2 linked regions of the Homo sapiens genome follow. The protein of the gene in region 2 binds, or shares a complex with, the protein of the main gene of each other region. Each region holds a gene or a part of one and is shown on either strand. Other genes may lie near its edges.

Region 1 (7,502 bases), on a different chromosome or scaffold from region 2:
ATTGGACAGCACCACTCTGGAGTCTGCACTGATAGCCACTGCTCTCTGGGGTTGTGGGGGGTCATCTTCCCCACCCTCCAGCCTCAGGGCAAGACCCAGATTCCGCCTGTTCCTAACACCGTGCTTGTTTGGACAAAGACGATGGCAGCCACGCAATAATTCCCTCATCTCCCCATTCTGCTTCCTCTGACTGCTCAGACACTGCACCCTCGTCCCAAGCCTTGCCTCCAACTCCAGGTGCAGCTTCGCTGTACTACCTCCCTGTAGCAGGAATCCCGAAGTGTTTCATCTAGTGGAATCCCCGCATGCTGATATGTGGAGAAACTGAGGCCCAGGACCACAAAATCTTCGAGGAAGCAGTGGCCCTGGAGGTGACCTAGTCCTTTCCCATGCAGGGCAGAGACTCCTCCAAAGCATCCCTAGTAAGTTCTACATAATGAAACTCTATGTACAGTAGTCCTTTGGTATCTGTGGGTGATCGGTTCCAAGGCCTCTAAGGATACTGAAACCCGAGGATGCTCAAGTCCCTCATATAAAACGGTACAGTGTTTGCACATAACTTACGCACATCCTCCCATGTGCTTTAAATCATTTCTAGAGAACTTATCATACCTAACACAACGCATGCACATCACTTCATTTGCATGGATTCAATGCAGCATTCAGTGAGCAGCAAATTCAAGTTTTGCTTTCTGGAACTCTGTGGAATGTTTTCCCCTGAACACTGTCGATCCAGGGTGGGTCGAATCCATGTGGAACCTACAGATACAGAGGGCCCACTAGTTTTATGTGGTTTTACATAATGAAGTAATAGACTTCAGGTCAGATGGACCTAACCTGCTACTGCTGTAAAGGGTGCCTACCTTCTAGAAATGAGAAATGACAGCACCCAGATGCTGGGCAGGTTCTAAGTCCTCATCCAGCCTCTGTTAAGACACTCACAGGCCCAGCACAGTGGCTCATACCTGTAATCCCAGCACTTTGGGAGGCTGAAGCTGGAGGATCGCTTGAGGCGAGGAGTTTAAGACCAGCCTGGGCAAAATAAAGATAGCAAGACCTTGTTTCTACAAAAAGTTTTAAAAATTGGCAGGGCATGGTGGCACAAACCTGTCATCCCAGCTACTTGGGAGACTGAGGCAGGAGGACCATCTGAGTGCAGGAGTTTGAGGCTACAGTGAGCTATGATCACACCACTGCACTCCAGCCTGGGCAACAGAGCAAGATCCTATCTATTAAAACAAAACAAAACAAAAAAAACACCAGCCTGGGAAACACAGCAAGATCCTGTCTCTATGAAAAATAAAAATTAAAACAAAAAAAATGTTAGGCGGGCATGGCATCACCTGTGGTCCCAGCTACTGAGACCTGAGTAGCTGAGAAAGCTGAGGTGGGAGGATCACTTGGGCGCGGGAGGTTGAGGCCACAGTGAGCTGTGATTGCAACGCTGCACTCTAGCCTGGGTGACAGAGTTAAGACCCTGTCTCACAAAAAAAAAAAAAAAAAAAAAAAAAAAGGCCGGGCGCGGTGGCTCACACCTGTAATCCCAGCACTTTGGGAGGCCGAGGTGGGCAGATCACCTGAGGTCGGGAGTTCGAGACCAGCCTGGCCAACATGGAAAAACCCTATCTTTACTAAAAATACAAAATTAGCCAGGCATGGTGGCAAATGCCCGTAATTCCAGCTACTCAGGAGGCTGTGGCAGGAGAATCGCTTGAACCCGGAAGGTGGAGGCTGCGGTGAGTCGAGATCACGCCATTGCACTCCAACCTGAGCAACAAGAGCGAAACTCCGTCTCAAAAAAAAAAAAAAAAAAAAGACCCACATGTTTGAGATCAGATCACTGGTTGGGGGTAGAGGAAGACCCACAAAAATGGCGAGCTCAATACTTAACAGCTCAGGATATATAAACTTTCCAAAACCAGATGTGGCTTCCAATGTGGCCAGAGGGTCACAGAGCTTAGTGAGTAAAGGTTTCCCTTGACACAGACCTTACCACAGCACTGGCCCACACAGGCTTATGGTTTAATGGGGCAGTTTGAGAGTCAGATTGACCTGGGTCCAAACTCCAACTGCAGTATAACTTCTACAGTGTCCCCTCTGTAAAGTAGAGGTTGAAAAACAAAACAAAAACAAACCAAACCTTTCTCACAGGGCTGAGAGGATGAAATGAGATGATGAAGGCAGAAATGTCTAGAATAATGGTCTAGCACCTAACAGGCATTAAAATGTTCATTTCCCTCTTCCTTCGTTTTTCAGCCCAAAACCCCAAGCCTTTTCCCTCAACATGAATGAAGAGTAAGTCCCACTCTATTCTAGACTTACATAATTGATGCTTTGAACTTAAATGCAGGATGTTACACTTAGACCTATTACATTTCTTCTTGAGATAAGTATATGTTCAACATTGCTCAATGTCAAGTAATTTTTAAAAGCTAAAAACTAAAAACAATGTTTTAAAGTCAGTAGGGCATAGTTAAATATAGTATAGTCATAGAATGCAATGTTACTTGGATCCTTAAAATTATGGTTTTAAGTATTTTTTATGACATGCACTATTACCCATTAGATAGCATTCAGTAGGGAAAAAAACGGGATAGAGTATAATTGCAATTATGTTAAAATATATAGATTTGCATGAACACAAATTTGGAAGGACATTCACCGAAATACCAGCCCACCCGAATTATAGTATTATGTATCATTTTTTTCCTTTATGCCTTTCTTTATTTTCCAGGGTTCCTACAATGTACATATATTAATTTTAAGAGAGAAATATTTTTAAACTTCATCTTTCTACTTAATGGCAGCATTCCAGTCAACTGAGATGATTTTGAACCCTGGTTCTATCAGCCAATGTTTGCTACCCTCAACGCCCATAAAAACGAGAAACAGGGTCAGGTGCGGTGGTTCACTCCTGTAATCCCAGCACTTTGGGAGGCCAAGGCAGGTGGATCGCCTGAGGTCGGGAGTTCAAGACCAGCCTGGCCAGCATGGTGAAACCACATTTCTACTAAAAATACAAAAATTAGCCAGGCGTGGTGGCAGGTGCCTGTAATCCCAGCTACTCAGGAAGCTGAGGCAGGAGAATCGCTTGAACCCAGGAGGCGGAGGTTGCAGTGAGCCGAGATCGCACCACTGTACTCCGGCCTAGGCAATAGGGCGAGACTCCATCTCAAAAAAAAGAAATACGCCGGGCATGGTGGCTCACACCTGTAATACCAACACTCTGGGAGGTCAAGGCGGGCAGATCACAAGGTCAGGAGTTCGAAACCAGTCTGACCAATATGGTGAAACCCTGTTTCTACTAAAAATACAAAAAAATTAGCTGGGCATGGTGGCGTGTGCTTGTAATCCCAGCTACTTGGGAGGCTGAGGCATGAGAATTGCTTGAACCCAGGAGGCAGAGGTTGCAGTGAGCCAAGATCACGCCACTGCACTCCAGCCTGGTGACAGAGCAAGACCCATCTCAAAAAAAAAAAAAGAAAGAAAAAGAAATGAGAAACAGAAGACACAGGCCACACAGGCTCCTGGGAGAGGCTCGTATCTATGGAAAACATAGAGGACTAAGCCAAAGACAGCCCTGCGGCACATCACGGGGACCTCTTCACAGTAACACAAGCTCAGGAGTTAGGAGTCAGCATCCAGCGTAGTGGGTCAAGCAGTCACACATCCATCTCCCTGCTGTATCAGCCAGACCACACTGCTTTCTCTTGTACCAAGAAGATCATTAGACTGAAAAGGCTTACTGAACATTCCTCCACCCAAGTTAGAGTTGTTTTCTCCAAGACTTGGTAGAGTGAACCCAGGTTGGCTACTAGGTATCTCACTTCATTTTCACACTCTCCACATATTTTTGTTCAAAAATCTAACCTAGGCTGAGTGCAACCGTGTACACCTGCAGTCCCAGCTACTGAGGAGGCTGAGGTGGGAGGATTGCTTGATCCTGGGAGGTCAAGGCTGCATAAGCCATGACCGCATCACTGCACTCCATCCTGGGTGACAGAGCAAGACACTGTCTACGATAATAATAATAATGATAATTTAAAAAAATTTATGGCCGGGCGCGGTGGCTCACGCCTGTAATCCCAGCACTTTGGGAGGCCGAGATGGGTGGATCACAAGGTAGAGAGATCAAGACCATCCTGGCTAACATGGTGAAACCCCGTCTCTACTAAAAAATACAAAAAAATTAGGTGGCGGGTGCCTGTAGTCCCAGCTACTGGGGAGGCTGAGGCAGGAGAATGGAGTGAACCCGGGAGGCGGAGCTTGCAGTGAGCCAAGATCACCCCACTGCCCTCCAGCCTGGGCGAAAGAGCGAGACTCCGTCTCAAAAAAAAATTATTACACTGAAATTATTTTTGATAACACTAGGGTTTAAGAAAACACCAACATTAACTTCACTTTTTTTTTTTAAGGTGGCTACTAGAAAATTTTAAATTGGCAGGGTATGATGGCTCACATCTGCAGTTCTAGCACTTTGGGAGGCCAAGGTAGGAGGATTGCTTGAGCCCAGGAGTTTGAGTTCTGCCTGGACAACAAAGCGAGACCCTACCTCCACAAAAAAACTTTACAAATTAGCCAGGTGTGGTGGCGTATACCTGTAGTCCCAGCTACTCAGGTTAAGGCAATGAGGATTGCTTGAGCCCAGGAGTTCAAGGAGTGAGCCATGATTGCACCACTGAACTCCAGCCCGGGTGACAAAGTGAGTCTCTGTCTCAAAAAATAAAAAATCATTAAAAAACAAAATCTAACCAAGAATTGGGCAAGGAATCAATTCTAGGAGTCTGCCATTTCCAGGGTCCCCATCTTGCTTCCTTGAAGAAACAAATCAAGACAGCATGTGTTGTCTCTCCTACTCCTACCCTCCTTCCAGGTCCTGGCAGTGGTTCTGGGGTCACTCCTACACCTTCTCTTGGGACCCCAAAGCCTATCTGTGAGAATCCGGCAACCTGAACTCAGGCAAAGCAGCTTGTGTGGCCTGACTCACAATTCTCTCAGGGTAAGCTGTGGCCTCCTCACAAAGTCTGGTCGACCCTTACAAAGATGGAGGCAAGACAAGAGTCCTCCGCCTCCAGAACGTTCCACCCACTGTCTCGCTCTGCCTGCGGCTAAAGAAATCCCCCATGGCCAGGCGCACGGTGGTTCACGCCTGTAATCCCAGCACTCTGGGAGGCCGAGGCGGGTGGATCACCTGAGGTTGGGAGTTCGAGACCAGCCTGGCCAACATGGAAATACCCTGTCTCTGTTAAAAATACAAAAAAAAAAAAAAAAAAATTAGCCAGGTGTGGTGGCAGGCACCTGTAATCCCAGCTACTCAGGAGGCTGAGGCAGGAGAATCGCTTGAATCCAGGAGGCAGACGTTGTGGTGTGCCAAGATTGCAGCACTGCACTCCAGCCTGGGCAACAAAAGCAAAACTCCGTCTCAAAAAAAAAAAAAAAGAAAGAAAGAAATCCCTCACGTTGTCCAGCGACCCCAGCCTGGGGACTCCCTGTCCAGAGCTTTGCCCACAACCCAAGATCGCCGTTCCAGCCACAACTGCCCAAGGCTCACAGCCAAGGTGGAGACCAGCCAGGGAGCAACAACACCAGCCTTTTATCCCAGCCAGGATGATTCGCAAAGACATCTCAGGGGCTTGAGGGGAAGGGGAAGACCAAGTCCTGGCAGGGGCGAGCGTGGCACGAGCGGAGGCTGGCAAACACGAGCCCTGTGCTAGTAAGAGCCGAAAGCTCAGCACAGAACCGGCACGGAGCTCTAGCTTCACACTGAGTCAACGGCCCCCTTTGGAGGAGGGCCCCACCCCAGAGGCCCACCCTATGTGTCATCAGCCCCTCCCCAGCGCCCTCTGCACTGCCCCCAACCCTCTACCGGATATGCAATCCCATCCCCCAGGAGGGTCACCCCTGGCTCTGCACAGTTCCCATTTCCTGCCCCTGGTGACTCCTCTGAAGTCTATTGTTCCCATGAAGTTTGGGTCAAAGGAAGCAGAGTCCCCACCCATGGGGGCCCGCCTGCCCACACCAAGCCAAGGAGCCAGCCCCCGCTACAGGGAGCCTGGCCCATCCTCTGGCCCTTCCAGGAGCCCCCCTGTATTAAATGCAGGAGGACGTGGGCATAGATCTTGGAGACCTGAGTTCTAGTGGAAATTTTCCCAAATATCCAGTCCCCACCAGCTAAGGGCCCCAGGGCCAGATCACACAGGTGTGATTAGAATCTCCCAGATAGTAGCGGGAAAAACCAAAAGCAAGGGAAGAACCGTCATCTCAGAAAGCGTCCAGGCAAAAGTGGAATTAGAAGATAGGAGCTGGAGACCGTGTTCTCCCCAGTGACAAAGCCCTGCCCCCACCTCCACCTGGGCCCTCCTGGCTGCTGACAGCCCCCTCACCCCCCTTTACTGGACAGCAGCTGTTCAGCTCCAATTTCAGAGCTTTAAAGGGAGCTGTCGTCCAACCCCGGCCAACAAAGGGTCATGGGGGCAAAGGAAGACAGGCAAGGTAAAGCCACCCTCACAAGCCCTGAATTTCCAACTGCCACTGGACTGACCTCAACTGCAGGAAAGGCAAGGTCCAAAGCTGGGGACCAACGTCCTCCACTTCCACTGGGAAGGAGAAGGAGGAGCCACAGGTTTGGCAACAGGCATTGCTTTGTGACAGTCACCGGGGCAAGACTCCAGAGTGGAAATCAAAGGAGGTTGTGACATTTGCAACCCAGGAGATCTAAAAAGATAGGGAGAACCTTCACCTGCCGGCTCATCAAGGGGAGAGGAGGGTGTGTTTTAAAGACCCGAGGGCCCCTTCCCGACTCCACAGATTCTACAGTGAGATGGCTCCTTCCCCAGAACAGCTATGTGCTTTCTGCCAGGTCGGAGCAGAGTATTTCTGCCTCCTACCAACCTTATCTGAGCGACAAGGCATGGCCCAAGTCAGTCTGCTCCAGCTTCCGCGCCTGTTGGATGAAGGCGGCTAGGGGGAGTAGGGGGTGTACAAGCACTGCAATCCACAGGGCAGGAGACAGAACGCCAAGGGGAGAGCATAGGTTCTAATCCCTGCTCTGCCACTCACCAGGGTTGCGGCATTAAGCAAGTTACTGTCCCTCTAGGAGCATCAGTTTCCCCATCTTTAAAATGGGAGACTTAGGCCAGGCGCAGTGGCTCACGCCTGTAATCCCAGCACTTTGGGAGGCCGAGGCGGATCACCTGAGGTCAGGAGTTCAAGACCAGCATGGCAAACATGGCGAAATCCCGCCTCTACTAAAAATACAAAAAACGGCTGGGAGTGGTGGCTCATGCCTATAATCTCAGCACTTTAGGAGGCCAAGGTGGGCAGATCACCTGAGGTTGGGAGTTGGAGACCAGCCTGACCAACATGGAGAAACTCCGTCTCCACTAAAAATACAAAATTAGTGGGGCACGGTGGCGCACGCCTATAATTCTAGCTACTTGGGAGGCTGAGGCAGGAGAATCGCTTGAACCCGGGAGGCAGAGGTTGTGGTGAGCCGAGATCGC
Region 2 (6,793 bases):
CAATTTGAAAACCCACTGCCCCAGATGAGCTCCTTGGGTCCCTAAGGCTTGGCCTGTGCATGCCCTGCCAGATGCCTCTTCTCACTTGCAGCTCCAGTCTACACATGTGCTGGCTGAATCCTATAAGTAGATGGTGTCTGTTGACATCCAGAGGTTCTGGAGGGGTGGCTCCCAGGAGACTGCTAGGTAGTTGTTCTGCTTCACTGATGAGTGGGCAGGAGACAAACGTTTACTTATCAAGATAAAGCAGGGAATGCCACCTCCACACCCTCTGGTCCCTGCACACAGTAGGTGTTGAATGGAGTTGATGCAAAGCTGGGAGTCCCTGCTGCAGGGTCAGCACAGTGGACTGTCGGGAAACCAAGGCAGCAACAACCGGTTGGGAAGGGTCCATCAGCGGCCCAGCTTATCCAAGTTCAGGGCAGTTGAAGCCAGCACAGCTCATGTGCCTTTAACAGAGCTTTACAGAACTCGGGCTCTGGTGCTGGGCGATGCAGTCGGAAAGAAGCGCTTCCAGCTTTCATGTGCCATAGTCCTGTAGGATTACAGACAATTCGTTGTCATGTAAGCCATAGCAACCACAAGCATCCTTCACTCAGGCCTGCTGTGTGCTGAGTCCATTCAAGTCACAGGAGATACAGAGACAGAAAGCTGTGAAAGAACTCCCTTCCCTTCTGGAGCTCACCTGGATGGGGCAAACAATAAACAGACAAAATTTAAAAAAATAAGACAGGAAGCAGCTGTTTACGGTTCACAGGAAAAATCCTGCTCATTGGAATGGGCAAAGTATTTAATTCTTAAAACATTTAGTAAGAAGCTACTCTGTGCCAGGCTCTAGTAGGAGTCAGATTACAAAGGGCCTTCTGCATTTAGCTAAGGAGGTTAGACTTCATCTTTGACTCTAGGAACACAGGGATGGGAGAGGGCGTTATTAACAATGCTAGGAGTTGGCGGAAGGCATCCTGGAGGAGGGGGTGTTTGAGCTGGGCCTTTAAGAATGGCTGAGAGGACAGGGTTGGCTGAGTTGGGCCCAAGAATCAGGTTTGAGGCTTCTGTGGGTGTGTCACCAACTGTAAATGGGAAAAATAATCCCCTCTCTGCCCAGACCCAGGACAATAATGAGAGAACACTGGGAGAGTCTTATGACTGGTGTGATTACTGCTGTCTTTCCACCTGCCTATATGGCCAATCAGAAAACACAGAGGAGCCTTCCCTTGTGTGGGTCAGAGGCATCCAGAGGCCTGGCCTCAAGCCACAGTTGCCTCCTCTCCCTGCTCCTGACTTCCCAAAGCTGCAGCTCCCATATTCCTGAGTTGGGAAGGTCCAACATTGTGCTAGAAGAGTGGAACCCAGGACGCATGGAGAAAATCTGGTCTTCCTGGCCGGCAGCGCTTAGGCAGCATCTGGTGCTCACGGGAGCTCCAGGAGGCAATGTGGCCAGGCAGATCCAACTCAGCCTTTGGACACAGACGGGCCTGGCTTCAAGTTCAAGCTCTGCTGGTTAACAGCTGTGAAGCCTTGGGAAAGTAACTCAACCTCACTTCATTTGTCAGGGCAACCACAACACTACCCTCACGGAGCTGCCCCGAGGGTCAGGTGAGGTCTTCATGTGGTTGTGGAATACGGCTCTTGGCACATGCTGGGTGTCCACAAAGAATCCATTTTCTTCCACTTTTCTCTCCCTTTCCTTTCTCTCTTCCCTCTTTTCTTCCTTCTCTGTTTCCTCAAAAAGTGTTTGGTGGAAGAACAGCCCACATTAAGAGCTTTGGAAAGACTTTCGTAAGACACCAACTCACCTCCCACGGAGTCCACGGGCCTGGTGGGGAGGCTTACTACTGGCTAAGAAAGGAGAGACAGCTTCATGAGCGGGCAGTGCAGAATGGGCCAGCAGGGCTGCAGGTGCCGTGGGATCTCAAGGAAGCTGGGAGCTGAGCTGAGTGGCTCTAAAATGTCTTGATGCCCTTAGAAGAGAGAAGATCTTCTGGAGAGAGGAATGATGCAGCCCCCACAAATCACAGAAGGCCTGGGGAGAAAAGGGCGAGCACAGCAAAGCAGGTGGTTACGTAGTCAGATGCCAGCTGCTGGAGAGGTTCAAACTGTTGGCTGTGCACACCAGCCTCACACAGTAGGCAGCAGGGAGCTGGCCCTGGTGGCCACAGGCCCTCAGGGCGCTCTCTTCAGCCACGCGTGCCAGATGTTTTGGAGCAGAAAGGATGTTTCCTGCTTGTACCAGTCAGGGTGGGCTGGGACGTGCTGCAGAAACACATAGCCCTCAAATCTCTGGCACTTAAAATGATGATGGTTTGGCTCTCACCCATGCAAAGGTTGCCGCAGGCAGGAGCAACCCTCCAGGGCACGTAGTGGCCAACAATCTAGGATGCGTCAGTCCAGCGGCACTTCCATCTCGGTCCACACTTCCCCGACCCCGCAGCAGGGTAGGGGCATGGAGAATACAGTGCTGGCTTTCAAGGCCTAAATTGAGTCACAGCTTGTCAGCACCGGGCCATCTCCTCCAAACCCTTCATTTTGCCTGTAAGGACCCTCAGGCCAGGGGTAGGGGAGATGGCTTGGAGTCAGGCCACAGCAGCTGTCTATTGGCCAGTGGGAAGGAGCAGGGCCATCACTTCTGGATGGAGGCCCTGGCTCTGCCCTGCCAATGCCCCCAGTCTGGGTAGGGAGACTCCAGGGAGGAGTCCTGCAACCTAAGATGCCAAATCTTAGGTTGTAGTACAGAGGTGTGGGTTGGCGCACAGGCCACCAGCCATCTGGCTGGTGAGGGAGACAGGAGGAGAAGGCAGTAGAAGGGGAAGAGAAAAGGAAGGGGAAGGAGAGGAGGAGGGAAGAGGAGGCTGAGTCTGGGCAGAAAAATGATGAGGCGTGAAAGGGGCCCGTGAGCTGGGCTGGCACGGAGGCACGACCATTAGCATTTCCCAGGCGGCCGCCCTCGCCTTCAGCCTCACCTTCCCTCTGGCCAGTTGGTGGGCAGGGCCAACAGCGGCTCTGGGCTCCCTTGCTTGCTCAGAGTGGCCCTGCTTGCAGCCCCGCCGGCGTTGGCACGGTGACAGTAGCCAAGTGTGCAAACTTGTCCCATTGTCCGCAGGCCAGGGGGAGCCATGGAAACTGGCTAATATGACACAGGAAAATGTTTGCTGATGGCAATTCTATGGGCTTTGTCCACCTCTTTCTCCATCATGACGACTCGATTTAAGTCCCTAACTGTTTGACTACAAATGCAAGGGGACCGTGCAACGCCAACCTTTTGTCCGGCTGCGCTGAATGGGCAATTCAGGCTTTGTGCAGCTCAATTGAGGAAGCAAACATAAAGACAAGATTCCTGAGAGCTCCAGCTCCCTTCCCATGGATATCCCAGCACCTCGTTAGAGAGTCCTTCCTCGGCCACCTTTTCCGACAGGCATCAGCGCACCTCCTGACCTTGAAGGCCCTCCATCCCCGATCCCTGGGGGATCCTGGCAGGGAGGGTGGTGGGGGTGGCAGGGGGAGACAGAGAGAGAGACAGAGAGACAGGAGAAGAGAGAGTGAGAGCGAGAGAGCCACTCAACACTCAAGGACAGCGGGAAAAGCAGCCCGCCCCGGCTTACCCCGTCCGATTGTCTGTCCGCACTGGAGCATGGCAGCTGTAGGCCTGGAGTCTTTGGGGGAGGTTTGCAAGCCTGTCTCCACTAGGCCCAGCCCCTTCTCAATCCTGGACATTTTAAACACACACACACACACACACACACACACACCCCACCCCCTTGAGAAACCAGGGAACTGAGGTCAAGGGGAGGAGGGGGGTGGAGGCTGAGGAGAGTGGGGCTGAAGGGTAGAAATTTACCGGGAAATGATTGCATTTGGGAGCTGTCTTTTTTGTGATGGTCCCCATGGTGACAATTTGTGACGGCAAAGAATGTGGGAACGGGGCGCCGCCGCCTGATTGGGATGCTTTGTATCTGGAGAGGCGCTCCTGATTGGCCTGAGGGGCCCCCCAGCTCCGGGGAGTTGTCCTCCATTCAGCCCACTCAAGGGTTGCACAACTGCTTCCAGCCGGACGGAGCTCGGCCGGCTGCGCCGGGGCCTGTCCCAGGTCTGCAGTGGGGAACCTGCCGGGCCACGTTGGTGGGGCCTGGGCCGCACCTTCGGTCAGTGTGGAGGCCCGGTGGCTCTGGCCCGACTGGGTGGCGGGTGTGGGGGCAGGCTGGGGCCTGGGGGAGGGGCGAGGTGCCGTGGGTGGCGGCCGAGGAGGCATGAAATTGCTGCAGATGCTTCTTCGGGGGAATCCCTGCTGCCCGCAGCCTGAGATCAGCCCGCAAGGCAGGTCTCGATTAAGTGCCAGACAGGGGTCCTGCCTGGTCCTGCGTGAGAGCTGGGGGTGGAGCGTGGGGACTGAGGAGGGGGGCTGGTGCTCCTCGTGCTGGGGGCAGGAGTGGTGGGAGGGGGAGGCTACCACCAGGGAGGAAGGGGGCTTGGCCTTGCTTTAAAGAGGAACAGTTGCCTCAGCTCAGAGAATAAACACCTCGCTGGCAAGTTGCACACGTTGGCAGCGTGGTGTGTGGGAGATGGGGCAGGCTGGGAGTGTGTGCCAGCCCCAGCAATGCCACCTGTAGCTGGGTCACCTTGGGCGACTTGCTTGACCTTTCTGAGCCTTGGCTGCAAGAAGGGGCACCAGACCCAAGCAGGCTGGGCGAGGCTCTGCTGGTGCCTGCCGCATCCCAGGTGTGCAGGAAGTGCTCAGCCACTTGCACCCACATCCCTCTACCCAGGACTCTGTTTAGGGCTGAGAGGTGCTGGGGTGGGGAGACTGTTTGTAGACAGGTGCTGTGGTCTTTTGGGAGGGCTGGGTGTGGTTGCTTGGAGAGACTCCGATGGCCTGTTTTGTCCCCCAGGTCAGCTCGGTGCCCTTCCTTGGAGCTGCCGGCCACCAGCAGAGCCTACCCTCTTCATGGAAAGCCTCGTGCAGTGGCCCCCTGGTGATGGCATCCGACAGTGATGTGAAGATGCTGCTGAACTTCGTGAACCTGGCGTCCAGCGACATCAAGGCAGCCCTGGATAAGTCCGCACCCTGCCGCCGCTCCGTGGACCATCGCAAGTACCTGCAGAAGCAGCTCAAGCGCTTCTCCCAGAAGTATTCCCGGCTCCCGCGGGGCCTTCCTGGCAGAGCTGCTGAGCCCTACCTGAAAAGGGGGTCTGAGGACCGGCCCAGGAGGCTGCTCCTGGATTTGGGCCCTGATTCCAGCCCCGGCGGGGGTGGGGGCTGCAAGGAGAAGGTGCTGAGGAACCCCTACAGGGAGGAATGTCTTGCTAAGGAGCAGCTCCCACAGAGGCAGCATCCAGAAGCTGCCCAGCCTGGCCAGGTGCCCATGAGGAAAAGACAGCTGCCCGCTTCCTTCTGGGAAGAGCCAAGGCCCACCCACAGCTACCATGTGGGGCTGGAGGGGGGACTGGGCCCCAGGGAGGGACCTCCCTATGAGGGTAAGAAAAATTGCAAGGGCTTGGAGCCCCTGGGACCTGAGACTACCCTGGTGTCCATGTCTCCAAGGGCCCTGGCTGAAAAGGAGCCGCTCAAGATGCCTGGGGTCTCCTTGGTGGGCCGCGTCAATGCCTGGAGTTGCTGCCCCTTCCAGTACCATGGACAGCCCATCTATCCGGGCCCCCTGGGGGCACTGCCTCAGAGTCCTGTCCCCAGCCTGGGCCTTTGGAGGAAGAGCCCAGCCTTTCCCGGGGAGCTGGCGCACCTCTGCAAGGATGTGGACGGCCTGGGGCAGAAGGTGTGCAGGCCCGTGGTGCTGAAACCCATCCCCACCAAGCCAGCCGTGCCCCCACCCATCTTCAATGTCTTTGGCTACCTCTAGCCACGCGGAGAGGGCCTCAGCCCCCACCTCTGGCCTGCAGGAGTGTCGAGGTCCCCGAGGCGCTCTCCTGTGAGGAGGTGGCTGGGCCACAGTGTGGCCTCTTCCGTTTGTGTGCGCATGGGAGTGGAGGGCAGGATTGGGGCAGGGCTCCTCAGGCAGTGACCCTTCAGCCTTGCAGCCTTGGAAGCTGGGAGGCTGGACCTGGTTGGCCCCTCCCCAGGCAGGCCAGGGCCCAGCAGCTTGTCCCGCTGTCCCTGTGCAGACCATAGGTACTGGGATGTTGCCCTTCCTTGCCTTGCAGTCACCCCAGAAGCCAGAGAGACGCATCTGTTTACCTGCCACCCACTCTGCGAGCCAATCTCAGTTGTTGTTCTTGTTCTTCTTGTTCTTTGTAAATATTGAGAAAGTTAAAAGAATAAAGACATTTCTTTTGGAGTTTCCATATCTTGGGTGTCATGAAGTTGAATGAGCCCCACCCAGGCTGAGGGCTGCTGGCAGAGGTGGCTGGTTTCAGGGAGGCCAGGAGCGGCTGAAACCTCTGAGATATCCGGGAATGGGCGCTGGGGGCCAAGATCTTGGTTCAAAGGAAGGAGGGTGAGGAGGGGAGCGGAGGAGCCACTAGGGAAGGACATGCTGGCGTGGACCCCCAAGGGGGTCCAACGTGCTCTGGAGAATAGGTGCTGGAACCAGGGGAGGTGGGGCTGCAGTATCAGCGCCGCCCTGTGCTGTGCGGCCAGACGCTTCCTCTGGGGGTCTCCTTGCCCCACCTGCAGGACAGTGAGATGAGAATGGGTCTCTCTGCAGTGTCTTCTGCTCTGTGTACAGCCGCAGGGCAGCCTCTGTGCCAAGGTGGTTGTGCCCAACTCTGGTCAGAGGGAAAATCAGGCCAAACAGGAGTTTGGTCCCTGTGGACAAAACAGGGGGCTTGACCAAATTGTTTCTCT

The links. The genes of interacting proteins can lie anywhere in the genome.
Region 1: the proteins of FAM181A (region 2) and TEAD4 are in contact, whole or in part, in a crystal structure (PDB 6SEN), measured with the Homo sapiens proteins. Residues at the interface, in NP_612353.3 of Homo sapiens: Pro191, Met192, Arg195, Gln196, Leu197, Pro198, Ser200, Phe201, Trp202, Glu203, Glu204, Pro205; in NP_003204.2 of Homo sapiens: Glu263, Ala264, Val265, Gln269, Ile270, Asp272, Lys273, Leu295, Lys297, Trp299, Glu391, Val414, Glu416, Ser418, Ala419, Ser420, Gly423, Gln425, His426, His427, Tyr429.

What each region holds. Positions count from the first base shown.
Region 1 is NC_000012.12:2,962,397-2,969,898, reverse strand, and holds part of TEAD4 (transcriptional enhancer factor TEF-3), read right to left. Parts: intron 1-7,502. UniProt on the Homo sapiens protein: Transcription factor which plays a key role in the Hippo signaling pathway, a pathway involved in organ size control and tumor suppression by restricting proliferation and promoting apoptosis.
Region 2 is NC_000014.9:93,923,316-93,930,108, forward strand, and holds FAM181A (protein FAM181A), read left to right. Parts: upstream 1-4,028; 5' UTR 4,029-4,139; exon of another isoform or gene 4,140-4,311; intron 4,312-4,883; coding exon of another isoform or gene 4,884-4,970; coding exon 4,971-5,849; 3' UTR 5,850-6,293; downstream 6,294-6,793.